4 separate regions of the Homo sapiens genome follow, and regions 1, 3 and 4 are each linked to region 2. The links come from fine-mapping of genetic effects on plasma protein levels. A gene starts in region 2. Each other region holds a variant in brackets. All regions are shown on one strand. Distances are between the middles of the regions.

Region 1 (2,688 bases), 23 kb after region 2:
CTTAAGTGCTCTTTATTCATGTTTTACTCACCTTTTTAGCTAATTCAGACTGCGTATGTGTGTGTGTGTGTGTTTAAGAAAAGTAAAAGCATCCGTGCTAAAGCAGCAGCAGTGGGGGGCAATGCAGCTTTTCTGTTCTGTGCAAAGTCTGTTGTTATCTCAATAGTGCAGAGCTGTTGAGAGTAGCTGGATGATTTTGCAATGTAAGAAGAGCAATTTAGTTTTTCTAGGGCAGGTAAAAAATGGCTTGCATTATTTGAGGAGGCTTTGTAAGAAAGGAATTGTGTACTTTTAAAAACTCTCCATTTACCTCTGTCACCTATGCTGTGGCCACAAGAATAACTTCAAGTGGGGCCAGATTTTACTCAGCAGAGCAGCCTCGAAAGTGAAGGACGACGAAGGGAGCAGAGTTTTCTTCATTTGAGAACATAAAGAAAAAGGAGCATTTTGAGGGGAAGAGAACTTGGAAAAGTTGACGCAATACATTACAGCAGGTGTAGAAATGATGGAATCCTGATTCACAGGATGGATATTTTGGTTTCATTCTATTGCTTTATTATAGGTAAAATTGTTTCAAAAGGCTTTGAGAATTTCTATTAAATGGCATCCGGATAAGTTTTCTTAATTACTCATAGTAAAACTCCTTAAACAGTAAATGAAAAAGGTCACATTAGGACATTATTGTACAAGCAAAGACTCCCCCAATGCCCATGCAAAGATTTCTAACTAGCATTTGTCCCACACATAGGAGGAGTTCACAGGCAAACCTCACAGCTGCCTTTGAAGCTGGCATGTTTGGAACCCTAAGCCACTGGATTGCATATCAGTCTTCTGTTTTCACAAGACCTAAAACCGTGTGTCTCACTCAGAATGCAAATAAGTCATAGGGACAGCATTGCCTTGATTTACGGGTTTGGTCTTTTTGACCTGAAAACACATCAGTTTATTGAAGGGCTGTGTAAGCACTGGTGTGACTTAGGCAGTTCAGACTGTATGTTGGGCTCTACGGTTAGGGCTTACATTTATTTATGTATTTATGTTTAAATAAAAGCACTCAGCACATTGTCCATTGATTCCTTAATCTGACAAAATCCCAATAGTGCCAAGTTGTGCAGAGGCCTCGAGCCTGGAGGAGAGGTAAGCTATACCGCTGGGTTGGCTGCTTTGTTACTTCAAGCATGGAAGGGTGGACTCAGGCACCAGAAGCCTCTTTCATCGAGCTCTGGGGCTTGTCTGATGGCTACAGATTCAGAAAGCTTTGAAT[C/T]GGATTTAGATTCAATTGCTAAAAGTTGCTGAATCACAGTAGAGAGCTAGCTTGTGACTTATAAAACTTCTGGCATTATTTGTTTTGTTTTATTTTGTTTCTTTCCCTAATAACCTTAATGTTACTGAATTTCATTCATGATTGCTACAAACGATCAAACCAAGTAATGATTATGGAAATAAACTTTAAAAGCTGATTTGGTGAATAAGTACATAACTCTCTGACTTAATTCTTAAAACCACAAATCAAGAATTCCTTATGTTTATTTTTAGTTATCCTTAGAACTGGTAGATTAAAAACTGCAGTGTGACTTTTTTTAAAACATAACATATCTTATATTGCCAAAGGCTATTTTTTCTGTAAGTAGTAATGAGATCAAAGTCTCTCCAAATCTGTCATATACATTGAACAAAAATGGTCCTAAGACTAGCCGTGATTTAAAAATGCACAATTCTTCTTTAAAAATTGTGCCATCATTCAAATAATACTAAATTGATCCTGTGAATTAAATTTTAGATGAAGAAATTTCCAGTTTTGTTAATTACACACTTTTTACCTACAGCTGGTAACTTTGTTTTTAAACCATGCTGCCCCGAGATACTTGTAAATCTCACCTGATCTTCATAAAATTATAAAATCAAGCACAATTAATAGGAAAATATATTCCTTCTCATTTTTTTGGAGGTGACCAGAAGTCTGGATAAAATAACTTGATTTTTTTTTTTTCATATGGTAAACACTGACAAGAGCAAGTGTGGGAAGGAGATTGAGATATGGGTTATCACTTTATTGCTCCCAGGAACAAAGAAAAGAACTTTTCACTCCTAGCTATTATGCAACAAACTTTTTTTTCCAGCATTCTCATTCATAATGTTTTCTGGAGTGTAACGTCTGTCTTTAAAAGGTTTAAGCTAATGCCCACACATGCCAACTTAAAAATACTTTCCCATTTATTACATTTCCTTTTCCCAGACCTCTGGTAAACTTAAGAGGCCTCATTATACTATATGGAAATAAAGAGATTCCCAAATGGGGAAGGACTGTTTTGAATGCCGACTAAGGTCCATAGCCGGGGGAAATAATTAACTCATTAACTCATTCATTCATTCATGTAACAAACATTTATTAAACACTATGCAAAACTCTGGCTCTAATCCTCAAGGAGATCACAATCAAGTGGTGCAGAAAGTCATGCATAAAACGAATGCTAATGCAGAGTGGTAAATGCCATGAAAGAAGGATGCACCCACCAAGTGCCTTGAGAAGGCAGAGGCCGCAGCCACTGACTCACTCTAGGTAGGAAGACCTAGCAAAAGTGCACTCAAGGCCAGGCGCAGTGGCTCACGCCTATAAGCCTAGCGCTGTGGGATGCAGAGATAGGCTGATTGCCTGAGCTCGGGAGTTCGAGACCAGCCTGGGCAACA
Region 2 (2,676 bases):
TATTGCTCATCAATTTTCGTGTCTGTGCATTCAAAGCACAGCTATCCACCTACTTGAAAATTTTATGCTGACAAAAAGAAAAGTCTGCTCTTTTTAATTTTGTCTTACTATCAGTGTGGTCCCATGTGGAAAGGCAGGCTGCTAAATGCTTTTCGAAGGCTGGTGAACAGGTTAGACTTGCTTACAAGGCTAATTAAAATTGATGCATGCCATCTATTACATGTTACTACTGGATCTAAATAAAGTATCACTTTTCATCATTAATGCCATGTTCCTTCTCTACTCTGTATAGAAGTTTTTGCTTATTTTGTATGTTCCCTTTGGCTACAGACACATCACCCTTCTTAGTAAACTGTCTGAGTTTTTCAGCATGACTGTCTCATTATTTCTGTATTGGAATGGCCTCTTAGCTCTGTGTTTTGCAGTTGTTTATAACATCTACTAAAAGCGACATGAAAAGATGACACAGTCAGAAATACGGTAAAGACAGAAGTAACAGTATTAACTGACCTCATTTAGTTAATAATATGATGTGCTCAGTGCACTGCTTTTAGTCTGTAGCAAACAGCACATTGGATGTTTACACTAATACAGATATTGTAAAAAGAAGAGCAATGCTTCTGGATATATAACCGTACATACACTGCCCACGTGCTTATGTGAGAACTATGTTATTCCGAAGTTGCTTATCTGAATGGTAGGAAGATTTCAAAAAGGCTTTCTCAAGAATGAAATAAAAGGAACAGTAATGACCCTTACAACTCCGAAGATACGATTATAATTCTTCCGACTATTATTAAAGCAAACTCTGTACATCTTCATAATATAAGATTGCCAGTAGTTTTCTTTTTAAAAAGCCCAGCATAATCTCCTTAGAAAACCATTATGAAAGAAAGCCAAGAAGAGAGGACAGGAGAAGCACAAAAGATTCCCACGGGAAGGACAAGAAAAAGGTGGTTGTCAGTGCTGTGAGAACGAGTTGAAAGGCATGGGAAATATGGAAACAGACAAATTCCAATGCAGATCCACTAGCTGGAGAGGTAATTTTGCGTCTAATTTTGCACCTCTCTCCTCGCCTCCCCGTCTGCTCTCCACCATCACGCTTTTCGACAGTAAGAAGGATTTGGGGTTTTGCAGACTCTAGCGGGCATGAAAAGGATAGGGGGTGGCAACGACTTGAATTAATGACGTTCTCCTACAGGATGGAGGGGAAAATGACTTAGTGTCATCAAATGAACTCCCTACTCCTGGCATAAATTTATCAAACTGCAACTTTATCTCGAATACTCTGGAAGAGTAGAGGAGAGGCCCTAGAGAAAGCAAGTCTTGAGGGGAAACGCAATGCTCTTGGCAAAAACCGCACCTCCCTCTTGAACTACACTGACTCTTTTCACAGAGCGCCTTCCTTTAATAGAATCACAACCACCTGGACTACTAATAAGAGGAAGAAGAAAGGAGAAAAGGGAAGGGAGGATGGCAAAAATCACGCTCTAGAAGATCCAGGCAACGTCGTCGTGAAGAATAAAGGGAATCAAAATGGGCACTGGAACGCTGCTAAGGGCTTGCTTTGTTAACACACTTGCACAACTCAAGTTCAGCTCTATCTTATGTTGAAAGTCCTTGTTTACGATCCTCGTAGGAGGTTCTTAAATATCTGCCTGCGAACTCCCAAAGACTGGGCGCTTACTAGTTAGGGGAGGCAGCTGTCCCGGAGGGTGTCCAGCTCGGATGGCTGACTGCTCTTTCACTTGTCGTTAACTTCCACCCAGTAGTCTTAGTCTCCCCTTGGACATGGTACCGACCGTGTGCCATTCTTATTTCACTTGACCGAGCCCGAGCTGCAGCCCAGGGTGGAAGCCGCAAGGGCTGGGCAGAGTTCCAGGCAAGAGGGACCGAGAGGCGTGAGCAGTGCTCCGCAGCGCTTGTCAGAGAAATGGAGCAGCGGCTCCTTTGTGGGCTCTTACATCCCCGTCCTGGGTGCACAGCCCGGATATTTGATCTGTGGGGTGATTGATAAGTGAGGGAGAGGGGGGACGCGATCCCTCCCTCCCTCCTCCCTCCCTCCTCCCTCCTCACTCCCTCCTCCCTCCTCCCTCCCTCCTCCCTCCTCCCTCCCTTCTTCCCCTCTCCTCCCTCCCGCTTTACTTCCCTCCTCCCTCTCGCCTCCCTCCCTCCTTCCTGCAAGAAGCGTTGCCCGTTGGCTAGCTGCTCGGTGGGGATCTGCCTGCCCTGGGGGCGCCGCCCGCGCTCCCCGCGGTGCTCTCGCTCCTGGGCTGCGCCAGTCCGAGGCGGTGCCGGCTCCTTTGCCTCCCCGAGTCGCAGATGCTGCGGGCGCCTCCGGGAAAAGATCTGGGCGGCGCGCTCGCTCGGTAAGTTCTGAGCACTCAGGGACGCGGTGGCGACGCGGCCAGTGAGCCGGCTTTCCTCAGTCCGTTGCCTTTCCCGGCCACCTCTCCTTGCGAGGGGCACCAGCGTGGGGAGGCTGGGCGCCATCCGCGGAGGGCAGCTCGCTGGCGGCCGCCCTCTACCCTCAATCCCCACTGGAGATTCCTCACCCCGGGACCGTCCGCGCGGGCGTGGTCGGGCTCCGCGCCTCGCGCAGCGGGGTGGCACAGGCGGCCAGGGAGGGCCCACGCACCCGGCGCGAGCTAGAAGCCTCCGGTCGGCCTGCAGTGC
Region 3 (2,688 bases), 170 kb before region 2:
TAGCAGGTACCATGCATGAATTGGGTTGCTTAGCACAACATTTACTGTCTTACAGTTCCAAAAGCTAGAAATCCAAAATTAAGGTATTGTCAAGGCCACGATCCCTCTGAAACCTGTATGGTAGAATCCTTCCTTGCCTCTTGGCTTCTGGTGGTAGTGGCCATCAATCCTTGGCATATTTTAGCTTGTATAATGTCCCTCCAATCTCTTCCTCTGTTATCTAAATCTTCACACGGCCATCTTCCCCTTTTATACATCAGTCTTATTATATGTAGTACTCATCATAATGGCCTTGTCTTAATCCGATTACATCTCCAAAGATCTTCCTCCCAAATAAGATAACATTCTCAGATACGAGGGGTTAGGACTTCAACATGTGCAATTTGGGGAACACCACTGAAATAACAACTCCCTTTTTGTTATTTCTCTGGTCCGTCCTTCCTATCTGTTCAATGTCGTAAAATAATGTTGCAGTAGCCTCTAGGTGAGAAGCCTTCTGTTCCTACTCTGGAAAGACGTTGTAATAGGAGATGAATTCTCAAAGCTCTAAAAGTTCTAAAAGACATGAGCTACACAGGATGGTTGACTTTGGCAGTCTCTCGCCCAGACCTTAGAAAAAAATACCCACTTTGGCTAAGCCCAAGGGTAAGAGACCAAGAAATAGTCTGAGACAAAAGAAAAGGCAACTTTTCACAATTCAAATAATATCCAGCTCAGTTGACTATAATAGGGAGGAGTTCTCTAGGTCTTAGGGCCAAAGCTGTACATAATATAAGGGTATTTTTTTCCTTCTACATTCATTCATTAGAGATAATGGTTCCAGTTAAATGAAAAACTCTGCCTTTCTGCTTAAACTTTGATAATTTCAGATGGACGAAGGTAGACCTGAATTAGAGTTAGCTTGTAATAGTAAAACAGAGTTGAATGGCTATATATAAGAAGTAGGACAAGTTTGAAGTTACCTGGAGAAATCTAGGAGAAACATGGTGAAGAGAAAAACTGACAGAGGGGTGGGGGGGGAGGAGAGAATAGAGGAGCTATTAAGATGTATGAGACTGAGGCACTATGTAAATTGCAGTAAAATTTCCCTGATGGTAGGAAGGAAAAGAAAGTTTTTATATGTTGTTATCTCTGTTCTTGGTAGATTAAATGATCTCCACCCACGATGCACACAACCTAATGCCCAGTACATGGCAAAAGAGACCTTTCAGATGTGATTAAATCGAGGATCTTGAGCATGGAGATTATCTTTAATTATATGGTGAGCCCAATGTAATAGCAAGGATCCTAATAGGAGAGAAGCCAGAAGATCAAAGCAAGAAAAAGCAGATGGAATAATGGAAGCAGAAGTCTGAGCGATTCTCTGAATATAGAGAAATGATCCATGATCCCATCTCTAGAAGCTGACAAAGGCAAGTAAACACATTCTTCTCTGCAGCCTCCAGAAGAAACCAGACGTGCTGACACTTTGATGTTAGTGAGATTTCTTTCTGACCTCAAGGGCTGTAAAAAATCTGTTTTGTTTT[G/A]AACCACTAAGCTTGTGTCAGTTTGCTATAGCAACGATAAAAAACTAATACAATCAGGCATGCCAAAATGTTGAATTTGACTTTTTTTTCTGTTGCTGAAAGGTACACCACTCCTCTGTGCCCTTCCACTCCAGTCAAATTTGTGAACTTTAACATACCAGCACATATTTTGTATGAGTATGGTTGGTGTGTATATGCATATGTGGCAACTGACGAAGAGGCTGGGGTGCATTACTTTATCAGTGTTACACAGAATGGAAAAGGCAATGTGCAGGGAGGAGCTCTGAGACGGAGGTGAGCCTAAATGCATAAGACCCCATCAACAGCCCAGAAGTTAAGGGGAGGCCTTTGTGAATCTGGTGCCAGGATAAAATCCTGTCTAGAGGTGCACTGCACAACCTCTCTCTAAAAGACATATTTAACAGAGAGTTCTCATGGCAAAAAATAAAATCTAATGGTGAAAGGGGCAAGAATCGATGGGGTGATGATTTTCAGCTACATGGAAACTTTCATGTTTTCATAGATACTGTTTGCTGAAAAAAATTTTGCAGTAGGAAATAAATAGATTTCATGGACTGATTGACTGATGTACACAAACATAAACTTCTCTTAATCAAAGGCAACTAATTATCTCGAGATTTAAAAAATCCCAAAATCTATTTGCGCCTTGTATAATACCTGTCTTTTAGAATTCTGTTGTTCAGAAACAAAGTATCTCTCCGAAAAAAACAAATTCTGTTGTAATACAGTGCTACAAATGGATACACATTTAGGTGGGAACTTATACACACTGGAAAAGGGCTTCAGAAATTATATGTTTAATATAATTCTAAGTTATCTAAAACAGTTAATGCTATTTTAATTACCAGAGCAGTTGAGGGTGGAGATTTTAGTACCATGGTGGGATACAGCCTAAAGGATTCAGAATAAGCTGAATTCTATATTACAATCATGAACAAAAGACAAATGTTTCAATGTATAGAAAAATGATTGGAAGTTAATTTTGGGGACTTTGCACTTATTTGGGTAAAACATAAGCTTTATCTCACTGAATATGAATATGTATAAAGAATATTTCTTGTGCATCTGGGATGAACTACAGACTCTATATAATGACACCAGTGGTTTAGTGCTAATCTCTTTGGTGCCTAGTTCACATCTC
Region 4 (2,688 bases), 450 kb after region 2:
TCAGAGGAGAACGTGATAGTAGCCCGCTGAGGTACCGTAGCATGGCTATGAAGGCAGAGGAAGGCAGAGCTACCAACCAGACTGTGTGGAGAAACAGCAGCAGGCGCTGGCAGCAGGTGGGAGGGAGGAGTGAGAGGGAAGCACGACTTTCCGGCAGCATCCATCTGTTGTCTTGTTGCTTGTCTGCCAGGAGAATTTAGTTGATGACTTCTGAAAGCAAACTGCCCTTCACCTTAGAACATACTGTTGACAAACAATAGCAGTACTTACAAGTGAAGAAGTGAAGAGCTGGCTTGTTCACTTAGTGGTTCTTGATGGAAATGGGGCAGAGAACTTTCAATTCAGAAACTCTCAAAACACAGACCAGCCATCAGCTGCACTGAAATACCCCCAAAAGCCGCAAGCCTCTTGTACTAATAATAAATTCCACCTTTCTGTGGCTTCTCAACTTAAAGATTGTCAGAAGAGATAGGAGAGGGGAGAAACCCTCCCCTCTGCCTGGCAAGCCCCCAGTGAGGACAACTCAGGTTTGCACATGGGTGCATCAGTACCTCTGCAAATGAGTTTGGGTGCTGAAATAAACTGTAACTGTTCTAAAATCAATAAACTTTCTTTTATCAACTCAACCCATTGCGCTCTCTTTTCAATAGCACTGTTTGTTTCTTTTTAATTCTTTCATCTGGTCTTCCTTTGACCAGCGTGCCTCCCTAGTGTTCCAAGAGAAGTGTGCTTTGCTGAGGGAATCTTGGTCTGGTCGTTTGGATAAAGAGGTTGATTTCCCTCATCCCTCGTATTGTGAAGGTCAAGTTGACCAGCCTTGGGCAAGTCCTTAAACTTTCTGGTCCTCTCTGCTGCCCTGTCTGCTTCTCTAAAGCATGCTGTTTCCTCAGTGAAAGACTCATTCAAGTACAAAGAGTCAAGATGTGAAATCTTCCAAGCCTGCTGTGCCTGTTGCCTTCTGCACACCCTCAGCTCTGCCCTTAAGTTATTAGTTCAGAAGGGTTTGCAGACTTATAGACAGGCAGTTCTTTTCGTCTTCAAGTAAGTGACAAGCTATTCCGCCCCAAATCTGTTCACAGTGCTTGACACAGATTGGGCAACAGCGCATTCACTCTTGCTGGATCTGCATATATCTCCTAGAACATTTTCCTTTACTTTGTTTTACACCCAGGACACAACTTGTCAAATTACTGACCTGGTCTATCTTGGTAGCCTTTCATTTTATTTTATTTTAATTTTTTTTTCAAAGATTGTAACCTGCTTGACAGGAACTGCATTTGCCATTCTGATGGGAAACTGCTTTCTCAGCTCAGCTATTTCACTTCATCTTATACCAATGAAGAACTTGTTTTCAGATAAGAATTCATAGGAGCGATAAAGGTGACCACAGCATAAGCACAAATCACAAGAAGTTGACAGGTACTGGGGTTAATTGATTTCAGTTCACTTGAAAGGTCAGTACATCTT[C/A]TTTCCTGCTTCTAGTTCCCAGGTTGAAGCTCCTGTAAACTAATGGACGGTTTTGGTTTTCCCAGGTTTCCTTAATCCACAGGCCAGTTGTGTTCAGTCTCCCCTAGGCTTCTCTTAACAAAGTGACAGCAGGTTTTAATCTTCCTGTACACACTGTGGCAGCTGTGCAAACATTTCATTAACAAAAGTGGGAATCATTAAACTTGTGGGTAACTTACACATAGCATTTGATATCAGTAGACCTTAAGATGCCCCAAAGAAAGGATAAATCTGTGCACCTTAAACGCTACTTTATTTCAAAAAGCTTGAATAGTCATAGCAAAGAAATTAAACTCCATCTAGGGAATTAAAATATGTAAGAAGGATTTCTGAATTAGTATTCAGTTACAAAATTCTCTAAAATTATATTGCAGCAGAAATAAAGCAACTTCCAGGCAAAAACTCACATTCTGAATTGAGAAGCTATAGAACGTGAGGCAGGCAAGGCTTTTAAATGAAAAACTGTTTAATATTTTAATGCTATCGTCCATAAGGTTTTGGAATTATGTGGACATTTCTTCTCAAGATACGAGATTGTTCAAAGATAGCTGCAAAGTTGACACTGGGCTTTGATTCATCTTGGTTTTATTACCACTAAAGTGATTTATTATGTTTATTTCATAGTTCTCCTCTCTGAAAATTTTTAATGCATTGCTGACATTTTATTAGTTGAAAAAATTTTATATCAAAAATCCGCCTATGGATTCTGTACTTACTAGTGTGAAAAGTAAGGACAAATCCCTACTGCCTTCCTAGTTCATTTTTATTTGAACATAACTCACTGTGTGCACCAACAGAAAAACTTATTACTCATTTTCTGTTTTAAAGATACAGGCTACTGTATTTTTAGGTGTATACCTCTTCTGCCATGCAGTCCTCCCTAATCCAAGAGAGAAAATCACATTTTCCTTAATCCTGCCATTGGGCTTCTTATACCTCCTTCATAGGATTCACAACAGTTCACTGCACATACGTGTTGCTCTTTAACTACCTAGCAAACTCCTTGAGACCAGGGCTGATTTAAAGCCGTGTTTACCCAAAACCAACACTTAGCCGCAAATGTCCAATGAATGAAGCCCTTGGGTGAACCACAACGCATATGGTGGTAATCTTAGATTCCTCCTGTTCAGTTTTTCCTTTCAGTTAATATAGACTTTTATTCCCAGTTGTGTGCTTGGTCTG

Alleles and levels. Positions count from the first base shown, and alleles are read on the strand shown. Strength reflects both the effect of a copy and how common the allele is.
For the plasma level of the protein whose gene starts at base 2,172 in region 2, allele C in region 1 goes with a lower level than allele T (moderate association).
In carriers of allele A in region 3, the plasma level of the protein whose gene starts at base 2,172 in region 2 tends to be higher than with G alone (weak association).
As copies of A replace C in region 4, the plasma level of the protein whose gene starts at base 2,172 in region 2 goes up (weak association).

Evidence for each region. PIP is the posterior inclusion probability: the model's chance that the variant is causal. Protein levels are from antibody-based Olink assays in UK Biobank. Linkage for the fine-mapping came from a reference panel and not from the study's own genotypes, which makes the PIPs less certain.
Region 1: its variant is fine-mapped to the plasma level of the SLITRK2 protein (UK Biobank, PIP 0.98).
Region 3: its variant is fine-mapped to the plasma level of the SLITRK2 protein (UK Biobank, PIP above 0.99).
Region 4: its variant is fine-mapped to the plasma level of the SLITRK2 protein (UK Biobank, PIP 0.92).

What each region holds. Positions count from the first base shown.
Region 1 is chrX:145,838,238-145,840,925 of GRCh38, forward strand. No RefSeq gene overlaps it. Among named protein-coding and RNA genes, the nearest start is that of SLITRK2, 22 kb to the left of the region's middle. The variant C/T (reference allele first, on the strand shown) is at 1,265.
Region 2 is chrX:145,815,658-145,818,333 of GRCh38, forward strand. SLITRK2 (SLIT and NTRK like family member 2) reads left to right here and starts at 2,172. Exons shown (of 5, transcript NM_032539.5): 1 at 2,172-2,369.
Region 3 is chrX:145,646,204-145,648,891 of GRCh38, forward strand. No RefSeq gene overlaps it. Among named protein-coding and RNA genes, the nearest start is that of SLITRK2, 170 kb to the right of the region's middle. The variant G/A (reference allele first, on the strand shown) is at 1,527.
Region 4 is chrX:146,264,859-146,267,546 of GRCh38, forward strand. No RefSeq gene overlaps it. Among named protein-coding and RNA genes, the nearest start is that of MIR891A, 240 kb to the left of the region's middle. The variant C/A (reference allele first, on the strand shown) is at 1,468.